Regions from separate parts of the Homo sapiens genome. Here regions 2 and 3 are each reported to be linked to region 1. The links are microRNA targets in miRTarBase. Many come from high-throughput screens and were not tested one by one. Region 1 holds a microRNA gene; each other region holds the end of a gene's coding sequence.
Evidence for each region. The annotated mature microRNA hsa-miR-3140-3p reads AGCUUUUGGGAAUUCAGGUAGU and lies in region 1 at 4,123-4,144, shown strand. An mRNA with a match to its seed (bases 2 to 7 or 8) in the 3' UTR can be bound and repressed. Matches are read on the target gene's strand: a 7mer-m8 pairs with bases 2 to 8, a 7mer-A1 pairs with bases 2 to 7 and ends in A, and an 8mer does both.

Region 2: miRTarBase lists FAM168B as a target of hsa-miR-3140-3p. Seed matches in the 3' UTR shown: 8mer at 6,933-6,940.
Region 3: miRTarBase lists ROBO1 as a target of hsa-miR-3140-3p. Seed matches in the 3' UTR shown: 7mer-A1 at 2,318-2,324.

Annotation. Positions count from the first base shown.
Region 1 is chr4:152,485,081-152,493,479 of GRCh38, reverse strand. It overlaps MIR3140 (microRNA 3140), which reads left to right and starts at 4,064; the gene lies at 4,064-4,153. All of the region lies in intron 2 of FBXW7 (F-box and WD repeat domain containing 7), which reads left to right. RefSeq lists an enhancer at 7,235-7,504.
Region 2 is chr2:131,047,184-131,054,883 of GRCh38, reverse strand. It overlaps FAM168B (family with sequence similarity 168 member B), which reads left to right. Exons shown (of 7, transcript NM_001009993.4): 6 at 1,869-1,993; 7 at 2,432-7,008. The coding sequence ends at 1,981. ARHGEF4 (Rho guanine nucleotide exchange factor 4) reads right to left here. Exons shown (of 14, transcript NM_001367493.1): 14 at 7,631-7,700. Among named protein-coding and RNA genes, the nearest start is that of SMIM39, 16 kb to the right of the region's middle.
Region 3 is chr3:78,592,562-78,600,261 of GRCh38, reverse strand. It overlaps ROBO1 (roundabout guidance receptor 1), which reads left to right. Exons shown (of 31, transcript NM_002941.4): 30 at 1-149; 31 at 1,335-3,023. The coding sequence ends at 1,349. Among named protein-coding and RNA genes, the nearest start is that of LINC02077, 550 kb to the right of the region's middle.

The DNA of each region.
Region 1 (8,399 bases):
TGAAAAACTATCCTTGGCTGGACGCATTGGCTTACACCTGTAATCCCAACACTTTGGGAGGCCGAGGCGGGTGGATCACCTGAGGTCAGGAGTTCGAGACCAGCCTGACCAACATGGTGAAACCCTGTCTCTGCTAAAGATACAAAAATAAGCCAGGTTTGGTGGCACATGTCTGTAATCGCAGCTACTCGGGAGGCTGAGGCACGAGAATCGCTTGAACCTGGGAGGCAGAGTTTGCAGTGAGCCAAGATTGCGCCACTGCACTCCAGCCTGGGCAACAAAGCGAGAGTCTGTCTCTGGAAAAAAAAACAAAAAACAAAAAAACTATCCTTTAAACTCTTTGGTTTTCATTTTGCCTCTCTGATCTATTGCTCTTCAGCCTTTTTTTAACAGGCTTCTCTTCTGCTTGGTTATTAAAAGTAGAAATTTCTTGAGTCTTGGTCCTTTGGTATTTTCTGCTTCTCTTACTTCTGTTATTTCTCCCCAGGCAGTCTTACCACTTTGATTTCCATTTATGAAGGAACTGCATACCTGTTGTTCCAGCACTTAATTTGCCTGAGTTTCAGACCTATTTAATAATGCCATTTAGCTTATCCTAGAGGTACCTTAAAAAAACGAGTTCAAATCTGAACTCATAATAATCCCCATCCATGTGATTTGACCCTAATCTACCTCCTTAGCCTTACTATTCTTTGTTACTCTTTGCCATAGCTGCACTATAGCAAAGCACGGCCTCTTGGTCCAGGCGTAATATACCTTTTCCTCCAGAGTCTTTGCTCTTATTTCCTATGTTAATATGCTCCTCATTTTTCATTTACAACATTACCCAGTTTTCAATACATACAAAAGATAAAAACATTAGTTATTAGGGAAATGCAGACTTAAACCATAAAATAATCACTAAAACCAACTAGAAGGGGTAAAATTAAAAAGACTGTCAACTACAAATATTCTAGGAAGCCATCCAGAACACTCGTAAATTGCTGGTGTGAGTATAAAATGGGAGAGCCACTTTGGAATACCACTGGCAATTTCTTATAAATTTAAGCATACACCTTTGGATCCAGCAATTCTACTTCTAGGTGTTTTCGGAAAAGGAATGAAAACATGTCCACAAAAAACTTTTAAAAATTATATTTACAGTCGATTTACTCCTTACAGCTGACAACTAGAAGCAGCCCAAATGTCAATAGGATTAATGACTAAAAATTTTTTGGTATATTCATACAATGGAATGCCACTCAGTAATAAAAGAACTACAGAATGGCAAATGTACACAACATGACATGGATGAATCTGACATACTTGGCAAAGGAAGCTGGACATGATACTGTATTATTCCATTTATATTAAGTTCTAGAAGAGGCAAAGCTACTCTGGAGTGAAAAAATAAAAACAGAACAAAGGTTGCCTTTTGCTTCTGGAAAATGGTGATATTCAACTGGGAGGGTGCATAAGGGGCCTTCTTGAAGTGATGAAAATGTTCCATATCTCATAGAGGTGTGTGTTACATGGGCTTATCTATTAAAGTTGTACAGCTAAGAAGTATGTATTTCAATGGCATACATGTATCTTAGATAAAATAAACAAGTTTTATCTAAAAATTATAGAAATAATTGAGTTAGGTGACAGGGAGTGGGAGGTGTAGATGAAAGAAGAATTGCAGAACGTTGGTGGTTGCTGAAGTTGAGTAATGGATGTGGGGAAGTTTAGTATACTATTTTGTTTGTTTTTTGTGTGTTCAAAGTTTTCCATATAAAGATCTTTTTAAATCAAAGTTACGAAGACACTTAAACAGCACCTGTGGTCTGACTGCCAGCTTAATAAAGAATGCTTACTAATGTAATTTTCTTCTCTGTGAATCGTACCCTGATTCAGCACTCCTTTCTCCCCACCAGCCACTATCCTGAATTCCTCTTGACTTTTTAAGACATCTTCCAAATATCATTCTAAACGTCACGTCCATGGGGGAAAGCCTTTTCTGATTCAGAACACTCACTAGTTTTAAGTGCCCCTGTTAAGTCCTTTCATAGCTTTTATCTTAATTATGATTTATTTGCTTAACTATTATCAACCTCTACACTAGACTAAGCCTAAGTTTTTGGAGGGAAAGATATATCTATTCTTGCTGTTTTAATGTCTAGAATAATAATACATTTATTGAATGATTATGTTGGTGTAGTTTTTTAAAAAAATTGAAGGATACCCAAATTGAAGAGCTATTCTATTACTGCTTATGTTGTAAGGTCAGTATGTTATAAAATGTATGAATGTGAGAGAATGACTGAGAAATGATAATGGTTTCTTTCTGATTTTATTGGCATCTGATAAAAACAAGGGGCAATAAAACTGTGTTATTAGATCTGGAACTATATCCGGAAAGTCCTGTCAGTTGGTTCTCAAATGCCCTTGAGCTTTATTATGCTTCTTCCTTATTAATGTATTAAGCCGTGTGAGTGAAAGACCCCTTTCCTCTTTACAAAGAATATTCTAAATCACCTCTTTTTTCTCTCTTCTCTAATGTGCTTCTTCCTTTGACTATTAGTTTTGGTATTTATCAGGGACAGCGATCTTTAAGAGCTTGTTGTTTTGTTATTTTTTGTACTGCTTGCTGTATGTTTTAAATTTTGATATATCTTACTGCCAAATGAAGGTGTGAGCTCATAAGTAATAAAGATAGAAAAAATCTGCTTTGCTTATAATTATACCATTAAACATGTTGTCCTTAATGCAGATACACACTATTGGTATTGTAGGTGCAGGATTATGTTTTGATTTTTGCCAGTTCATATTTCCATGGAGTATTTAGGCAATTTTAACAACATAGATTTCTGTAATGAATGTTTTTTTAACTTATGCTGCTGCTTGAGAGACAGAGTCAGACTGCCAGGGTTTGAGTCCTATGCCCAATATTTCCTAGCTCTGTGACTTTTGAGTTATCTGCTTTTTGCCTGTTTCTTCCTCATTAAAACAGAGATACTAAGTGTACCTTATAGTGTTGTTGGGAGGGCTATTTGAGGTAGTATATGTAATGCCTGGTACTTATTAAATGTTAGATCTTTTTTACTTTCTTGGGTTCTAGGGAGTCCAATAAGTAACAAATTTTTCCTCTAAGGTTTTTTTCTTTATTGGTGGCAAAATATACATAGTATAAAATTTACATTTCAACCATTTTTAAATATACAATTCAGTGGCATCAAGTACATTCACAATATTTTGCAACCATCCATCTCTGTCCATTTCCAGAAGTTTTTCATCATCGCAAATAAAAACTTGATACCCATTAAACAATAACTCCCATCTTTCCTCCCCTGATTTCCTGGTAACGTATGTTATACTCTGTCTTTATGATTATGACTATTCTAGGTACCTCATAAATAGAATCATACAGTGTTTGTCTTATTGTCCTCTCATTTCATTTGGCATAATATTTTCAAAGTTAATTCATGTTGTAGCGACTTCTAGTTCCATTTTTTGTGGTTGAAGAAAGTACTTCCCTAATAGAAATGAAAACATGTTTGCAAGGCTTTTTTTAAAGAATGCTTATGGATTTAGTCATAATAGGTAACAACTGAAAACATTGGTATGGCTGGGTCAAGTTGGACTAATTCACTGTAGCCCAGGGTCATGTAAGAACATGGAGTTTTCAAGGTAGGCATGGGGGTGGTATTGAGGGGAGGGTAGTAAGCATAAAAGACAGTGCTCAGAAGAAGATAAGGGTGCCAGGTTTCAGTTCCAGGGATGTTCACAGTAAGGATTACAGTGGGCTAAATTTTAAGATTAATTTTATAAATTCTAAACACATCCTGTTGACTTTAACTGCAACTCTTAAAATGTATCAATAACATGACTTTATAATTCCTGGAAACTGATATTTTCCCAATACTTTGAAGAGGTTTAAAAATAGTTGACTAATATTAGAACCAATATTTCATGTATTGATTTTTCTCTTTAAGTGACAGTTAGTTTAGAAAATGCTAAACTTAAGTTAGCAGTATAGAGTAGGTATATAGTTATACTGAGTATGAATGTCTTGGTAGGCTTGGAAGCCTACCATTTATGTCCTCTTGAGGTACCTGAATTACCAAAAGCTTTATGTATTCTGAAGTTATTGAAAATAAGAGCTTTTGGGAATTCAGGTAGTTCAGGAGTGACTTTTCTAAAAAACAGAACTGAGCACCATACACTACTTCTTATAGCCTTTTAATTACTGCCAATTGCCTAGAATAAAGTTCAAATTCGAGGGCAACACAAACATGGCCCTTTGTGAACTGACAGACATTTCCTAATAATTCCTTACATACATGATACCCTTGAGCCTTACAGAATTAAGAATTTCTGAATTTACCTTGGTGTTTGATGCATCTGTGTTTCTATACGTGCTGTTTATTTACCTAAAATAGACTATTCTCTATTTAGCCTCAAAAGTCTCATGGAAGGTTTTAAAAAATCCTGTCTAAGCTCTGTTAATTATATTCTTTATACTATTATATTTAGTAGTTAATATTATAAACTACCTTACAGTAATTTTTACAGATACCTGGCTTACTCCCTAAATTGAGTTGCTTGAGGGCAGGAATTGTGTATTAATCTTTGCTGTATTTTCTTTGCCTTGCTTACTGTAGTTGATTGGTGCTAATTGAATAAATGAACATTTATGCTTTTCTTTTTGAGAATATTATATGGGTAGTTCCTTTAGTTGTTTAATAGAAGATAGCACAGACTTCTATACAGATTGGTTTTTATGGGAAAACACAAGAGAATAATTAATTAAAACATAATTTCATCTAGAAATTTCTGCAGTTGGAGCGAATATTTTTTAAGTTATTAACTTACCTAGAGTGGAAGATTGAATTTTTGAATGATAGTGTTTTAGTTATTAAAGTAAATGGCATGTAAGAGAACTTTTAAGTTCATGTGGCAAAACAGGGAAAAATTGCAAAGTTAGAGTCTGTAAGGTTTCTGATGTTTCATAGACTAACAAAAGGTTGCTTTATTAGCAGCATTAATGAACGAATCGCTTTATTGGCCTAGGCATACTGGTAGCATTGTCGTTCCAAAGAGCTGAGAGTTCTTATTTCAATTCATGATTATGTTAGACAAGTGAAGTGAAAGCCGTTGACCTTCTCTTAAGGAGAAAATAGAAAGTTTTTACAAATAGATTATAGATTAAAGCCTTTTAAGGAACATGATGAAGAACTAAATTACTGCTAAATCACTTGAAAAATTTATATTTTTTTATGCACCAGTCTTATAACAGTAGGTTTTTTATAGACCTATTAATTGATATTTAAAATAATAACTTTAATAGGATGATTTTGTAGAGTTAGTCAAAGTGATTGACAAAAGCAAATTATTAAAATAGTCAAACTTTCAATTCTCCAAAGAATGTTCAGTTTTAAAAGCAATATGAGATACAGGAAGTATTAAACTGGAGATGTAATGCCACTTGGATGGCATACTTTTAACATTATTTTTTATTTGTTTAAATGGAATGCATTTTGCTTATTAGAATCATTTTGGAAGTGCCAATTTGCTTCTGTTAATTTACATTAAAGATTAAAATAGGAACCACTGGTGACCTTCTAAATCAAAGTTCTTCAAAACGGTTGTTTTAAACAGCAAGAATTACAGAACTAAGTATTGTATAGCTATTAAAACTGAAAATTATGTAGCAGCAGTCCATTTTAAATTTAACAATTTTAAATGATACTTCAAAATATAAAAAATACAAGGAAGAATATAAGATGCTTATGTATCTGTACTGCCAAAATTTAACAAATGTTAACTTTTTGCTATCACTGTTTCAGAACTTTTTAAAATAAATTAAAAATATAATTGAAGATTACTAATCTCATTCTTTTGCCTCTCTTCTCAGAGGTAATTACTTTTCTAAAGGTATCCTGTAAGTTTTCAATACTTTTTACCACATATTTGTATAAAAAGATAAACAGTACTGATTTCCTTTTAAAATGTGAATAATAATATACTGTTGGCATAACTTTTTAACTTGCTTTTTTCACTCAGTGTTTATTTACATCAAGATTTATTCATGTTGATATTTGTATGTACTTAAAGTTTGTTTATTTTATCCTCTGAATTATTAGTTTGGTCCATTATTTATGATGTTTAGTTTGATTACTTGGTTAAGGTGGTGTGACCTGATTTCTCTATTGTAAAAGTATCCTTTTCCCCTTGATAATTAATCATTAATCTGTGGGGTAATGCCTTGAGACTGAGTAAACATTGTTTCTCAACAGCCTTTCACCCAGTGTTTTTAACATCCATTATTGATTTATGCCTGAATTATTGGTTACATTGATGCTTGCAAAATGATTTTCTACATCTATTATTCTTTCCACATTTATTAGCTGGCATTCTTCTTTCTGTAAAGGAGTTTCTGTCCTTTCACTAAGGGCTCATGGTTTCTTCATTAATTCGGTGAACTAAAATCCATTATTGTTATGTAGTCATGCACTGCATATACGACATTGATCCCATGAGATTATAATGGAGCTGAAAAATTTCTATCGCATAGTGACGTTGTAGCTGTTATAACATGTTAGGACTAACGTCACAACCAACATATTACATGTTTGTAGTGATGTTAGTGTAAGTCAAATCTACTGTGCTGCCAGTCTAAAAGTATAGCACATATAATTGTGTACAGTACATAATACTTGATAATAATAATAAACAGCTATGTTAACGGTTTATGTATTTACTATGCTATACTTTTTGTTGTTATTTTGAATGTACTTCTACTTATTAAAAAAAAAAGTTAACTGCAAAACAGCCTCAGGCAGTTCCTTCAGGACGTACTCCAGAGACATTGTTATTATAGGAGATGACAGCTCTGTGCATGTTATTGTCCCTGAAGACCTTCCAGTGAGACAGTATGTGGAGGTGGAAGACAGTGATACTGATGATCCTGACCCTGTGTAGGGCTAGTCTAATGTGTTTGTTTGTGTCTTAGGTTTTAGCAAAACAGTTTTAAAAGTAAAACAGGAATTTTTTAAAATAGAAAAGGCTTGTAAAATAAAGATAAAAGGAAAGAAAATATTTTTGTGCAGCTGTACAATATGTTAGTTTTACGCTAAATGTTATTACAAAAGTCAGAAAAGTTTAAAAACTAAAAAGTTTATATGAGCTAAGGTTTATTATTGAAGAAAGAAAATGTTTAAAAATAGATGTAGTGTGGTTTGAGTGTATATTTACAAAGCCTACAGCCGTGTGCAGTAACGACCTAGGCCTTCACATTCACTCTTCACTCAATCATTAACTCACCCAGAGCAGCTTCCAGTCCTGTAAGCTCCATTCATAGTAAGTGCCCTATATAGGCATATGATTTTAAAAAATCTTTTATACTGTATTTTTACTGTACCTTTTCTATGTCTAGATATTCTCAGACGCACCATGTTACAGTTACCAGGCAGTATTCAGTACAGTAATATGGTATACAGGTTTGTAGCCTAGGAGCAATGGGCTATACCGTGTAGGCTTGTGTAAATACACTCTGTGATGTTAGCACAGTGAGGGAATAGCCTAACAAACACATTTCTCAGAAGATATCCCTGTGGTTATGTGACGCATGACTGTGTATCCTTTGGTGACTCAAATTGTTAAAATTTAGCCAGCGAGAACTCAATCAGTCTGGTTTCTGTTTCTTTGACATGCCCCCTCATTTTTATAGCACCAGTTTGCTTTGTGGCACAACAAAACATTCTCTCCTTACCTTATGGTTTTCTTACCCCAGACCTGGACTTGGCTATTTTACCAAAAGTTCTTGTTTCTCTTAGTGGGGAATGGTATTTGGAAGCCAACATCATGGATGCATTACTGGGTGTCATTGCTTCTATTGGTTCTTTTCATTAGACAGAATAAGAAAATATACTTTTAAAAACTAGTGATATTTGAATTCCTAGTGACACCAAGGTTCTTTTCTTTCCTTGTTTCATATTCCTCTTCCATAATGAAGATCCAGTTTACCAATAACATCAATATATGTTTATTCATTTGCTCTGTCTTATACATGATATAACATTGGAATTACTATAGCAATACCACTACTAATAATAATCTCAATAAAGTTTAAGATTTCTATGCAGTTTTTTATTTATAGCGTATAGCCCAGTGAAGGTATATAGTCAGATCGCTATGCTTATAGTTATTTTAATTATATTTTTCACATAGGCAATTTGAAACTTTTTCTAATAGGAAGGTTAAGCCTATTTACTTATCTTGACATAACTAGTATGTTTAATCTAACTGATATGTTGTATTTACTGTTGTTTTATGTTATATATGTTTTTCTTTTACTCTTTTTTAAAAAGTTATTTTTACTAATACAAAAATCTTCCTTTCTCTAGATATTTAGAATGTTGGTCTTAGCTCTTATA
Region 2 (7,700 bases), not on the chromosome of region 1:
GATGTTTTCATGCATCTAGGAGAGCTGGTCTTGCGTTGATAGAAGAAACAGCTGCCTGTAGAAATCCTTTGGCATTCATCTACCGTACTTTACTTTGCAAGGCCTCCTCTAAGGAAAATAAACCATGGAAAGATGAGGCCCCTGGCTGGGATGGGCACATCTCCGCGGAAGCCCTGGGGGTTTGATCTGATGTCTAGGGATTGGGTGACCACCCAATCTGTATGACCACCCATGTGGATTCACCTCCTGGTCTCTGGGTCAATATGACCACCTTTAGGTCATGCCCACACAAAAGCGTACTGTTCCCTCCTTGTTTTTCTGGACTTGACTTCAGTGTAAGGAAATTATGCCAGAGAGAAAAGCATTCCGGGTTATTATGTGTGCTTCAATGTAGACTCTGATTTGGTTTTCCCCATACTTATCTGTCAAGGAACAGGAAACTGGGCATAGACAGAAACTGCTGGTTTGAGGCACAGGGAGGGAGGGCAGCAGGCACCAGGTTGGGTGCCACTGTGTTGGAGGTGGTGCTGGTCCATAAAGGGACTCAAGTAGTTGTTGAGTTTCTGCAGTTGTAGGAAAAATAGATTTCTCTTAAAGAACTCAGAAGCTCATGTAGTTTAGAATCCTCATTTCTTTTTTTTTTTTTTAATTTTAAAATTTTTAATATTTTTTTTTAAGACAGGGTCTCATCCTGTCAGCCAAGATGGAGTGCAGTGGTGTGATCTCAGCTTACTGCAACCTCTGCCTCCTAGGTTCAAGTGATTTTCCCACCTCATCCTTCCCAGTAGCTGGGACTACAGGCGCCTGCCACCATGCCTGCCTAATATTTTTTTGTACCTTTTGGTAGAGATGGGATTTCACCATGTTGGCCAGGCTGGTCTCGAACTCCTGACCTCAGGTGATCCACCTGCCTCGGCCTCCCAGAGTGCTGGGCTTACAGGCGTGAGTCACTGTTGCCAGCCTCTTGTTTTTTATTTATTTGTTTTTACCATCTTAACTTTTTTTTGTTGAGACAGGGTCTTGCCCTTTTGCCCAGGCTTGAGTGCAGTGGTGCGATCACAGTTCACTGTAGTCTGGAACTCATGGGCTCAAGCCATCCTCCCACCTTAGCTTCCTGAGTAGCTGGGACTATAAGTATGCTACCACACCTGGCTAATTTTAAAACTTTTTGTAGAGCTGGGATCTCACTATGTTGCCCAGGCGCATCTCAAGCTCCTGAACTTAAGCTATCCTCCCACCCCAGCCTCCCAGAGTGTTGGGATTACAGACATGAGCCCCTGTGCCCAGCCCATCTTAACCCTTTTTAAGTACGGTTCAGTAGTGTTAAGTATATTCACATTGTTGTGAAACAGAGCTCCAGAACGTCTTTATCCTGCAAATCTGAACTCCTGTACTCATTAACGCTAATTCCCTGTTCTACTTTCTTTCTGTCTCTGAATTTGACTACTCCAGGTACTTCATCTAAGTGGAATCATTAAGTATTTGTCTTTTAGTGACTGGCTTCTTTCTTTCAGAATTATGTTCTTAAGGTTCATCTATATTGTAGCATGTGTCAGAATCTCCTTCCTTGTTAAGGCTGAAGCATACTCATTTGTTTATCATCTGACCTATAAAAATTATTGGGTGTGCTTTATGAAGGGGACACACAAAAGGCTTTTACGAACATATTGTCTGTGGAGCTTGCTGTGTGGAGACAACTTTTGGGTGTGGGGGATTATCTAATCAGAGTTCTGACAGTATCTGGGTCAAGACTATCCCTCTTCCTGTATACCCTCCTCCTTGCAAAGAGGCCAGGCTTGTGTGCGTATCAGGCAGTGTGGAGCTGTGCAGGAGGTCAGCCTCATGTCATGTGCTGCTCTTTCTTCCAGGTACCCTGCTGACTGCTCACTCCCCAACTCCTGTCGCCCCCCACCCGGTCACTGTGCCCACGTACCGGGCCCCAGGAACGCCCACTTACAGCTATGTGCCCCCTCAGTGGTGATCACCTGCAAATGTAAGTGACCAGGGAAGGCTGGGCTAGCCTTTGATGAAAGGGCATTTCCATGGGACAGTGGCAAATTTACCACATATTTAAGCACTAACGAGGAAAGTGTGCCTGACCCTGGATCCAGAGGCAATGTAGTGTTTAAATTTTTTGTTTTTATTGAGACATTACAGAGTAGAAGGAAGGAAGGAACCATTGAATACCTACTGTTGACACTGTCCATCTTGAGCCTTGCCTGGAATGTGCTCTAACCCCCCACCTGCCTGCTACAGGAAATAGGGCTCCAGTTGCAATTGGGGGTCTCTAGGAAGGAAGTGAGAACCAGGTCCAGCAGTTTTGCCCATTGCTGCCCTTTCCGACCCTGCTGGGCCTCATCCTACTTGAGATTTTGGAATAGCGGTGCCGGAAGAGCTCTGTGTGACTGAGTGTCTGTCTTCCTTTCTGCAGGTTTGAGGACGGAGCTGTGCAGTCACATTATTGGGGATTCCACAGCTGGTGCTGCAGGCCTTGCGCCTCCAACCAGGACTTTCTTCTTAATGCTCTCGACACTTAGCTAAACACGACTATATCCCGGCCCAGCAGGCCCCAGCGCCGTTAGTCTCCAGCTGACTCTGTGGGTTGGTCTTAAAGCAAATTCTGTTTTGTGGACTGCCTGGCAATTTTTTAGCTAACTGTAATGATAAAAAGGGAGTATTAATCTATTCTGAATCATATCTAGTTGAATGCATGTTTAAAAAAACAAACACAAAAAGCTTGCTCAATCTACCTGCAGTGACTGATGCAAAACCATCATATGCAAAATCCAAAGGAATGGAAACGTATTTTACAACTTGTATCACTAATGCACTGTTGTAATGTATGCAAAGTCTTACAGTTATAAGTGTTAAAGTGAATTTCTTCATAGAGCATCTGAAATATCTTAGATGATTCTTCAACCTTTTGGGGTTGATGTGGGTTGCCAGTTAGGGATGTGGACATTTTAGTTTTCAGCGACCTGTTTCTTTGGCACTGACTGTCCTGGGAGGGAGTTGCGAGGTTTGGGAGAGAGTAGGGAAGCCACAGCTGCTTGGGTGCAGCTGGTTCATGGACATCCCTTTGAGTTTAGGCTTGGTGGAGTCAGTGGAACAGGGACATGCTTAAAGCTCATCATGAAAGATTATGGTAGTGTGGCCAGTGAAATTTGGGGCGAGGGGGGTGGTTTATGTGTCAGCAAAGCAGTTTCTCTGCTATCTAAATTTTCATTACAGTTCTCTTAGAGAGATGATGTTTTTATATGTCTTTATTGGAAAAGTCCTATGTAAAACTAAATTATTTTCCTGGGATGGAAGAAATGTGAAAGAGAAACAGCCATGCTTGCAGGAGGTATTGTCCTCTGCTTTATTTAGCTTAGAAAATCATTCCTTTTTTTTTTTTTTTCCTGGAGAAATGTTTGAATCAGCTGAAAACAGGTAGGCATTGCTGTTTTTCCCCAACAAAGAAGGGCAAAGGTTTCAGCTGTATGTTATGAAGAAAGTGGTATATTTAAGAATGAGTTAAAAGGGAACAAAACTTTATTTAAAATTCCTCCAATTTCTTGTAGAAAGGCAGGGCCGTGGATATGTCTGGAAATGTAGAAACCTGTAGCTGCTTCTGGGATCACCCACCTGATGGTGGTGACTTGTCTGCTGAGGCCGGCTGGAGGGGACGCTTAGAGATGGGGCGAGGGGGAGGCCAGTGTCTGTTGTCTGCGAGCCTCTCCTGCCATCTCTTTTGCAGCTGAGGGCACTTGGCACAAAGCAAGCACAGACAGCAGAGAGGGCCAGGCAGTGCTGGAGTGCGTTTGCTGGCAGGGTTTATTGTGGGAGAGGAATTTGAGTTTAGGATCTGAATCTTGTACATAAGAAATGAAAAGGCTTCCCTCCACCCCGCCCCCAAAATATGCCCGTCCTGTATCCATGAGAGTGCATGTCGGTTCTCAGTGAGGGTCAGAGTGGGGGTGGGGGATGTAAGGCCTGGGTCCCTTTCAGCGGCCTCTAGGGCAGGAGCGTGCGTCTTCTTCCCAGTGCAGTGGTGGTTTGAGTGCTGTGGGCTCTGGTGGGGAGGGGGCTCTGCTCCTCTTCATTTGCTGGTAGCTGGGTCAGGGCACTGGCGCCCAGTGAGGATGCCCACTAGCATTCTGCCCCAGTTGGTTGGTGGGGGGACACCTGACCACTGAGCCTTTGGTAACCTTATTTTTTATAGTAAGTACTTCTTATAATTTTCTTTTTCACATCTTATTTTATAAGAAGTTTAGGAATATTTTTGCATGGATCATTGTAAACAGCAGATTCTTTATTCCTGATGTCTATTAACATAGAATGTTTACTGATAAGTACTTTAAATTGCTTCATGAGCACTTAATCCATCTTAGTGTCTATGTGTGGGGGCAGACATTTACCGCAGGCACACAGTTTGTGCCCCTTTCTTCAAGTCTCTGTTGGTAATTCCATCTGTTTAGTGGATGGTTGGCAGGATTAGTAGGTTCTAACGGTTCCAGGGGTTCAGCTGACCAAGTAGCAGAGAAGTCTTTTTTCCCAATTGAGTGCTAATAGATTAGGATAAAATACTCACAATGTTAGTGTATGCTTTTAAAAAGCCCCACACAACAAAATGGAAACATACATGTACAACTCCTGTGAGGGCTGGAGTCTTGGGGTTCAGGAGGAGGTTAGAAGTTACAGGCATCTCTTCAGGCTTGCTTGGTACTTGGCACACACAGGATGGTGTTTTAAAGAGTGGGCTGCACCCCCCACACGCCATTTACATCAGCTTCATAAACACTTTTCTTCCTCCCTGTAACTTAACCTTTTTTCCCTTTTATGAAGTTGAGAGGCTTTATGAAATAAGTTTGCATTGCACATCCGTGCAGAAATCTTTCTGACTTTGAAATTTTTAGGACGTCAGCTGTCAGATACGAAAGGTAGATATCAGGTAAGAATCTGGACTTAGGAAATAGTCACAAAACTGTCATAGGTTGTAATTTTATCAACATTCGCTTCTAGTAAAATTAAAGTCAATTAAGAAATAGAACTTGGGTCAAAATTCTGTTACAAAGCTTCATAATTTGTCCCGAAGCATATGGTGGAGCATTCTGAGAAATTTGCTTTTTGTGTGTTTGACATTCCTAATTTGGGAGTCCTTCAGCTGAATTACTATTCTTTTAGAAGTTGAGACAGCAGGTAAGCAAAGGACCTAGTTCATGTAAACATGGACATCATGATGGCTATTTAAAAAATATTTGTTCTACACCTTCTCCCCTGAGGCTTGGGGAGTGTGTTCAGCCGCTGCAGTTTCTCTGCTCATGGAGGTCTTGTTTGGATCTGTGCTGGCGGCTGAGCATTTAGTGTGAGCCAGTGACCCATGAACTTGCCGCTCTGTGAGGGCCAGAGTCAGGGCCAGTCATGGTAATGGGCCTGAAGGCACTTCCAGAACCTTTTATGTCTCTCGTGAGCCATCTGTTAAGAACGTTCTTCTTGGTGTGGTTTGTAGGCCTACCTGTCGCTATTCTGGGAAACCTTCTTGAGTGCTATGCAAATGTGTTCACAGGCAATGGGGGTGGTCCTGAGCCTTGGGGTGGGCACCTGGTCAGTGAGTGTCTTGCCCTTCCCCAGCTGGGCATACAGTACCTTGCTCTTTCTGGTGGCATCATCTGGCTGTGATGAATGAGGTCTAGGAAATAATTTGCATGTGTCTTGGGGGACACAACAGTAACGAGAGGAAATACATTATTACAGCAACTTGCGACGTACTAATACCTGTCAGTGTTGGCCCCCGTAAGGTATGTAAGGCACCTGTGAGTGCCAGTGAGTGCTGGTGAAAGGCCAACATGTACTAGTTATGTAAGTATTGGTGTCTGCTTTAAAAAAGGAGACCCAGACTTCACCTGTCCTTTTTAAACATTTGAGAACAGTGTTACTCTGAGCAGTTGGGCCACCTTCACCTTATCCGACAGCTGACTGTTGGATGTGTCCATTGTCGCCAGTTTGGCTGTTGCCCGGACAGGACAGGACCTCCATTGGGCGCAGCAGCAGGTGGCAGGGGTGTGGCTTGAGGTGGGTGGCAGCGTCTGGTCCTCCTCTCTGGTGCTTTCTGAGAGGGTCTCTAAAGCAGAGTGTGGTTGGCCTGGGGGAAGGCAGAGCACGTATTTCTCCCCTCTAGTACCTCTGCATTTGTGAGTGTTCCCTCTGGCTTTCTGAAGGGCAGCAGACTCTTGAGTATACTGCAGAGGACATGCTTTATCAGTAGGTCCTGAGGGCTCCAGGGGCTCAACTGACCAAGTAACACAGAAGTTGGGGTATGTGGCCTATTTGGGTCGGAAACTGCATGTTTCAGAAAGTTTGTCTCTTTTTCCTACTCATTATTTGAAGAAGAGAGAGCCTGTGGGGATAGCCTTATCTTGGTCCACAGGACTGAAGTGAAGTCACTTGGGAAGGGGAGACAGAGGATGAGCGGCGTCTGTGTAGGGACCCCCCCCCGGGCCTGCAGAAGGGTGGTGTGCTCCCAGGACTGGCATGACAGGTGTCTCCTCCTCACCACAGGCTGTGCCCATGAGTCCCTGTGCAGACCAGTGGGCAAGGCAGCTGGGCCAGATCTCAGGCCAGCCGTTTGTGCTCCTAGCAGGGTTGCTGTGCTGGCCACACGGAGAGGCCCTAGAGAGCCTCATGGATTGTAACTAAAGAAGAAACGGTTCCTTTTTGTTTTTTTAAAAATGATTTTTAAATACCGTTTTTTACACCGTTCTCTCGGTACTTTTTTTAAGCTAAGTCAGCATTGTCTTCCAGTGTTAAAGGCATCCCTCACCTCTGCATTGAACTTACGTATCCATGCCAAGGAATGGAATTTCCATCCTGAGCCAGTTCAGTTAGGTGTCAATTGATACTATTTTAATTTTTTATGCAATCTGATGAGATGAGCTCAGATTTAAAAATCTCAAAAGCACGTTTATTGTAACAAGAATTGTTATGTATTAATACTGCAGTTTTCAATAAAGATTGACTTGTGTTGCATATTGTGGTTTTCATGATTTCTCCATATGGGTTTTTGTCTAGAGGTAGCATGGCCTGACTGGGAGGTGCTGGGGCTTCTCTCAAGTTGGGAGATTGCCAGGGGTTTTGAGAAGAAGACCACCATGGCGTCCAGCCCCAGTGACCTTGGCAGTGCTGGAGTGTGGTGGAGGCAGCAGGTTGCAGGGGACCATTTTCCCAAGTGGGACAGGGAGGGAAGCAGCACCATGCTCCCCTTCTGGCTTCTGTGGCCAGGGTCAGAAGACCCTGGGAAGACACGTTCTTCCTCATTTCACCAGGGATGCTGAGGCCCAGAAAGATTACTGACTACTCACCCACCAAACTCACGTGGGCCAGCTCCAGTCAAACAAACACAGGGAAGCACTGGTTTCTGGGTCTTGAGTGCAAGGGAGGGCAGAGCTACCTGTATTCCCCATCAGCAACCAGCATGGCCTGGCCCTGCTCGCCTTAGGCGAACAACTGCAGCCAGCCCCGCCTCAGCCTATCATCTCCACTAAATCCCCGAGGGTGTGATCTGCGACAGGTGAGCCCCCACCCCACCTTTAGAGGCTGCTGGCCACAGGAAAATGCACGCACACCCACAGAAAACGGGCTAGCAGCCAGGTTACTTTTCATAAATTTATTTATGAAATTAAATGTGGTTTCTGGCTTGGAGAAGGAATAGTGCAAGAGTG
Region 3 (7,700 bases), not on the chromosome of region 1:
CCAGAGATCCCAGTTCCTCAAGCTCAATGTCATCAAGAGGATCAGGAAGCAGACAAAGAGAACAAGCAAATGTAGGTCGAAGAAATATTGCAGAAATGCAGGTACTTGGAGGATATGAAAGAGGAGAAGATAATAATGAAGAATTAGAGGTATCTATAATTTTTCCCCAAGTTTACCAATGTTAGACTGTGGTTGTTTTATGTAGTTAGGAACCTTCATCAGTGTACAGAAATGTTACTGTTTTATTGCAAACTTTTCAGTACTCTAATGTCTATGATGGCAGAAACTGAAGTTCTGAGAATTTGAGAATTTTCTTGAAATGTGTCCCAAAGTTTTAAATGTTAATGGCAGTTTATTTGTTTAGCTAGGGTTTATCTTCATTTGCAGATTTTCAGATAAGAAACATATATGGCAAACACATTGTTAAGAAGTAAGAGCTGTTGATCTAGAGCTATTATAATTCATAGCATTGTAGCAGGCTATAAAAACCCAGTAAGATGACAGAGTTATATGATGTGAGTGAGGAAGTTGCCATAGTCAGCACCAGGGTAATGTGGCTGGTTTGGCTAACTGTCCTTCACCTTTACACTTCTGAAAGTGTATGCCTAGTCTGTGACACTGACCTCCCCAGTTGGAGGAAACTTCTTACGTCAAAGATATACTCTCTTGTTAGCCTTGACATATCATAAATTCTCCCCTCACCCATTCAAAGATTGTATTTTCTCAATTTAATAAAAGTTGAGGAAAATTTTTTAATAAATATAGTTAAACTCAAGTAGATAAATACGTGTCAAATGACAACTTTTTATAGTAGAAGCTGAAAAGGTATAGGCCATTATGTCTAATTGAAAGTCCTATAAAGCTCAATGTATTTCGATTTTGAGGTTTAGAATGAGAAAGACTTTCCTCCTGCAAACAGAGAAGTTGTTTTTCAGGTCTTAGTTTATTTTAAAATAGAAGTAGCCTTTTGGGGGAACAGAATGGCCTTACTGTTAACTCCAGTATTTAAAACCAACAAAAGCAGAGTTGTAATGTTGACTTGGGGCTGAGGGGATTAGATAACTCAACACATTCCTTCCCGCTTCTCAGAGCCCTGTGTCCCACCACGCAACACCGGGGCACTGTGCAGAACCCAGTTTGGTACTTGTTGAATTTGCTGTGAAGACCAATTAAGGTTGATGAATGAATTAGTTGACATGAGCCCTTTCCAACATAGTCCATTGAATAAATGAAAAGACACATTAAATTATAATAATAATAAATGCATATAAATAAATATAACACAATCCTCTTAAGATTTATTTTCAAATGTGACAATAACGTATCTCTTACAGGAAACTGAAAGCTGAAGACAACCAAGAGGCTTATGAGATCTAATGTGAAAATCATCACTCAAGATGCCTCCTGTCAGATGACACATGACGCCAGATAAAATGTTCAGTGCAATCAGAGTGTACAAATTGTCGTTTTTATTCCTCTTATTGGGATATCATTTTAAAAACTTTATTGGGTTTTTATTGTTGTTGTTTGATCCCTAACCCTACAAAGAGCCTTCCTATTCCCCTCGCTGTTGGAGCAAACCATTATACCTTACTTCCAGCAAGCAAAGTGCTTTGACTTCTTGCTTCAGTCATCAGCCAGCAAGAGGGAACAAAACTGTTCTTTTGCATTTTGCCGCTGAGATATGGCATTGCACTGCTTATATGCCAAGCTAATTTATAGCAAGATATTGATCAAATATAGAAAGTTGATATTCAACCTCACAAGGGCTCTCAAAGTATAATCTTTCTATAGCCAACTGCTAATGCAAATTAAAACATATTTCATTTTAACATGATTTCAAAATCAGTTTTTCATACTACCCTTTGCTGGAAGAAACTAAAAATATAGCAAATGCAGAACCACAAACAATTCGAATGGGGTAGAAACATTGTAAATATTTACTCTTTGCAAACCCTGGTGGTATTTTATTTTGGCTTCATTTCAATCATTGAAGTATATTCTTATTGGAAATGTACTTTTGGATAAGTAGGGCTAAGCCAGTTGGATCTCTGGTTGTCTAGTCATTGTCATAAGTAAACCTAGTAAAACCTTGTTCTATTTTTCAATCATCAAAAAGTAATTATAAATACGTATTACAAACAAGTGGATGTTTTTAATGACCAATTGAGTAAGAACATCCCTGTCTTAACTGGCCTAAATTTCTTCTGGTAGTGTCAGTTCAACTTTCAGAAGTGCCACTTAAGGAAGTTTGATTTTTGTTTTTGTAATGCACTGTTTTTAATCTCTCTCTCTTTTTTTTTTTTTTTTTGGTTTTAAAAGCACAATCACTAAACTTTATTTGTAAACCATTGTAACTATTAACCTTTTTTGTCTTATTGAAAAAAAAAATGTTGAGAAGCGTTTTTAACCTGTTTTGTTAATGCTCTATGTTTGTATTTGGAATATTTGAATAATGACAGATGGTGAAGTAACATGCATACTTTATTGTGGGCCATGAACCAAATGGTTCTTACTTTTCCTGGACTTAAAGAAAAAAAGAGGTTTAAGTTTGTTGTGGCCAATGTCGAAACCTACAAGATTTCCTTAAAATCTCTAATAGAGGCATTACTTGCTTTCAATTGACAAATGATGCCCTCTGACTAGTAGATTTCTATGATCCTTTTTTGTCATTTTATGAATATCATTGATTTTATAATTGGTGCTATTTGAAGAAAAAAATGTACATTTATTCATAGATAGATAAGTATCAGGTCTGACCCCAGTGGAAAACAAAGCCAAACAAAACTGAACCACAAAAAAAAAGGCTGGTGTTCACCAAAACCAAACTTGTTCATTTAGATAATTTGAAAAAGTTCCATAGAAAAGGCGTGCAGTACTAAGGGAACAATCCATGTGATTAATGTTTTCATTATGTTCATGTAAGAAGCCCCTTATTTTTAGCCATAATTTTGCATACTGAAAATCCAATAATCAGAAAAGTAATTTTGTCACATTATTTATTAAAAATGTTCTCAAATACATCTTTCTTTCTTGTGTTGATTTCTTTTTTCATTGTGTGCTGATCAAATTTATTCCATTTAATCACAAAGTCGTTCTGTCTTAACATTTCACCCCTGTATTATCAGATGAGTGAAAATTCTCAATTAGTTGTATGAATAACCAGGCTTTACTGTAAGCAAAATTTTACCTAAGTCCTCTGAAATTAAAAATGTAAGATCAGTCAAGACCTAGAAGTGAATAATTGGATCAGAGACTAAGTCTTCTTTAATATTAAGGGTATATTATTTTTGTTTATGTATGTGTATCTGAGTTTCAGTTAATCTATTTCATCTATTTCTAAAATAATTGGGATTCAACTAGATAAATGTGATTTGTAAAGTTTGAGCCACCTATGTTCTGTCAGCAAGAAAATTAATTATATAACTCTGAAATGCTTATCAGTAACTATCTGCTTTCTTGTTACGAATTCACGTAAAATTTTAACAATACCTATCATATACCAGGTTATACATTATTAAAGTTAGTTAGTGTATCCAGGTATTCAACTTTAGATGAACAATATGGGCACCATGTCTTGGAAGTTCCAAGAGCAACAGAATCTGATGTAGGTTTTTTCCCTTTCACATATATATTGCTCTTCTACCTAAATTTTGTGTTTATCAGAATTTGAAAATATGAGGGAAAACAGTGAAAAAAAGGGGTTTAATCTGAAATTTAATTTTATAAAAATGAAGTAATCACCAGCATCTACTTAAAGATGAACAGGTCCACAGGTCAAGAAGTCAATTTCTAAAAGCTACTTTAAGGAAAAATTAGAGGGACATGTGTAGTGACGTAATTTCTCTCTTACCCCTGGTGAGTTGACTATAAATATAAGTTAGTCTCTCTCTTTATTTATAATATGTGATAATACATACCGATTCTGTATATCAGAGGACCTGGGTTTGAGTCGCAGTTTTGTCACAGCTGTGTTTCCTCGGAGATGTTACTTAACCTCTAAGTCTCAGGTACTTCACCTGTAAATTCAATAATACCTACCTCATGGAGCCGTTGTCATGATTCAGTGAGTTAATGTGTATGATATGGACTCTGTAAACTCCATCAATGATACAAGATATTGTTATATTTATGGACTGAAATTCATTACACATGCAATCCCTGCTTTTCATACCTAGTTTGTTTCTGAGTATTTGCACGAAAGTCAAAGAATAAGTGTGGTACCAGGATGAGGGTGGTTTCATTTCCGGTGAGTAAAATTCACTGTGAAATTCCTAATTGTGGAATAAATAATTGGTGTTTTTGTTTGTTTTGTTGCTCTTGAATTCGAGGGCCACACAGCGGGTGGTGTTATGGTGTCTGCAGCACACATTTCACAATTCGTGGGTACAGACAGGAGTTCTCAACAATTAAACTCGTTGTTTATTTTGGGCTGCTATTCTGCCTAGTGGCAGAAGATATAATCTTAATTCCAGGTGAAATCGACGATACCTGGCTTTTTTGATTATTTCATATATAGTCTGGATTTCTTCTTTGCACACAGTGACATCTGAATTTCAGAGCTGTCCCCATGTGTAGAATGTGTGGGTGGTCAGGAAGCAGGCGGCTTTGGGGATTGCTGTTGGCCAAGTTTCATTAAATGATCTTCATTTTTGTCAGAACTTTACTCTGTATCCTCTTCTCCCAACCTTAATGCCTCTTATTATCCATTGATCCTCTCCTGATACTTCTAAGTCCTTCAATGTAGGGTGGGTGTAAAGAGTAAGGAAGGAGAGTTCCATATGCTCTTCTGTGCCATGCTGGGGCTCTAAGGACTTGAGACTTCCTTGGGGTCTCACAAGATACTACAATGGCCCCTAAACTGCTTGCTGCATTTGGACTGTGTGTTGGTTGAGGGAAGGGGTGAGAGCAACTTCTGCAGTTTTGAAGAAAAGAGCCTAATAATTTGCATTTTGGAGGCAATCCTATTTATGTTAAAAATAGTTTGGTAGCTACCACCCTAACAACTCAAAGATAAGTTTCATCGTAGTACAGCTGAAACTGAAATGAATCTTATAGGCATTAGTGTCTCACAATCACTTTCACCTTTTCATTGCTCGCTGTTTAAAAACATAAGCCTCAAAGAAACAGAGCATGCATCAAACTTTTGTTTACCTCGTTAATACAGTAAACAGCAGAAAGACAAAGAGCAGTCAAATGGCAGCTGTGAAAGAAACTTAACTATGATGGCTGAGTTAGTAAACTTTCTTTTTTTTCTTTTTCTTTTTTTTTTTTCTTTAAGACAGTCTCACTCTGTCACCCAGGCTGGAGTGCAATGGCATGATCTTGGTTCACTGCAACCCCCCACCTCCCGGGTTCAAGCAATTCTCCCTGTCTCAGCCTTCTGAGCCGCTGGGATTATAGGTGCCCGCCACCATGCCCGGCTAATTTTTGTATTTTTAGTAGATACGGGGTTTCACCATGTTGGCCTGGCTAGTCTTGAACTCCTGACCTCAGGCAATCCACCCACATCAGCCTCCCAAAGTGCTGAGATGATTACAAGCGTGAGCCACCGCACCCAGCCGAGTTAGTAAACTTTCTACAGGGCAATACAAACATGATACTAATTTTTACTGGGCTAGAGAGTCATGACATCTATCTTTTTCTTTAGGTTAAATAACCATTAACCTTCAAGACTACAGGAAGTCTGAAGTCGGCCACCTTTATCATTTGGAAATTATCTGTCGAAAATATACCTTGGTAATTTACATTCACTCAGGAGAATCAGATAAAGGTTCGACAGTGACTTACTCTTGTTCATGTTTCCCCAGAAGCAGAGCCTGCGACAAAGACTTGGATGCAAACAGTTTATTTGGGATAGAATCCCAGGAAGTGGGAGTGTGAGGGGAATAAAATTCAATATAGATCCTTCAAAGTAGGTGAAGGTGCCTCTACCAGGTACTCTACCGGCTCTTCCCAGGAGCACACAGAATGCCTAACAGAACTTTTCACTGAAGGACAGTAGCCCAAAATTATTCCCCATTAGCTGAAGGTTTCAGGCTGCAGGCGGGGCAGGGGATTTCACTTCCCGGTACTAGTGAGCAGACCAAGTGTGAATGGAAGACCCTAAGGCAGAAAGAAGACATGCACATGGCAGGTAGTTGAGTTGGGAAGGTGCCAAAATGAGGTGAGTCTGGGATCAAAGGGAACTTTTGGCCCTAGCAAAACCTCAAAGGCATCTATTGCTGGCAGGATTATTGGAAAATGTTTTAGTATGGTAATAAAAATCAAGCAATCATTAATTTACCATTTTTCAGATTTAAGATAAATTTTCCTTCATAATGTACACATATGAAGTTAGTTATAGGTATTCAAATTACTTTCACATTGGTGGAGTTTTTACCAGTTATCAATTTCTGGTACTATAGGTGTTGAATTTAATTGACATTTAACATATTTTGAAAATTTTTTTACAGTATTAGCATTGAAACAAAACGAGCAAAAAGCATGGAGAAACACCATTGAGATGTGACTTGGATCCTTAGAGGAATAACCAGTTACGCATTTTCTGGCAAAGCAACAAGCTTTACAGTACCACAGAAAGTAAAATATCCACAGTAATTCAAGTTGTGCCTTCCAACACACACATATATGCACACACACATATACAATGTTATTGAAGGCCAGTAAAATTATGAAATTCCTCAAAATAAAGTGAAAAAAAGTTTCAAGCAAAGTTGAGCATGGTGTAACCAATTTATGTGTTTTGCAAAACTATCGTTGAGACATTATATCATGACAAAAATTGGTAGCATTTCACAGTGACACACAAAGTTTTTAAATTCAATGAAAATTACATTAAAAAGTAACATGTATACAATCCCATTGCCTTATATTGGACTCATTATATTTACATAGATTGGATACTGTTAGGGACTGAATGTTTATGTCCTCCCTGAATTCATATGTTAAAATTCTAACCCCCAATGTGATGGTTTTAGGATGTGGGGCGTTTGGGAGGTAACTAGGTTTTGATGGTGGAGGCTTCATGAATAGGATTAGTGCTCTTATAAAAAACAACAACAACAACAAACAAACAAACAAACAAAAGCAACCCTAGAGAGCTCTTTCTTCTTCCTGCAATGAAACAAGGAAATGTCAGCAGTCTGCAACCCAGAAGAGGGCTATCACCAGAAGTCAGCTATGCTAGCCCTGTGATCTTGGACTTCCAGCTTCCAAAACTGTGAGAAATACATTTCTCTTGTTTACAAGCCACCCTGTCTATGGGACTTCGTTACAGAAGCTTGAACTGCCTAATACAGGTACTTCTTTTTAAAATTCAAATCTTTGACATAAATCACTAGCTCCACATCTAAGTTAATCTTCCCTCTTTCAGAAATTCTCTTTCTGTTTGGGAAAAACTCTGAGCTCTTCAACTTTGAGTAAAACAGCTTTTAATGCCTCTGGTTCAAGTTACTTTTATAGCCTGCTCAGCTTCAGAAATTTAAAAAAGTAACCTGGGCAAGTAGGGCTTCTTTTCCTGCCCAGTACCTGTACTTTGGCCTGCCTTCCTTGAAACTTTCAAGTCCTCCTCTGGTGCCTGAGATGGGCCTGGGAAGGCAGTGCCAATAGGACTGGGTACTGGAGCCTGGAGGAGGACTAATGTAGGCCCAGGCCCCCTGCATATGGGATTAATATTTGAGGAGCTGCACAATTCAGAA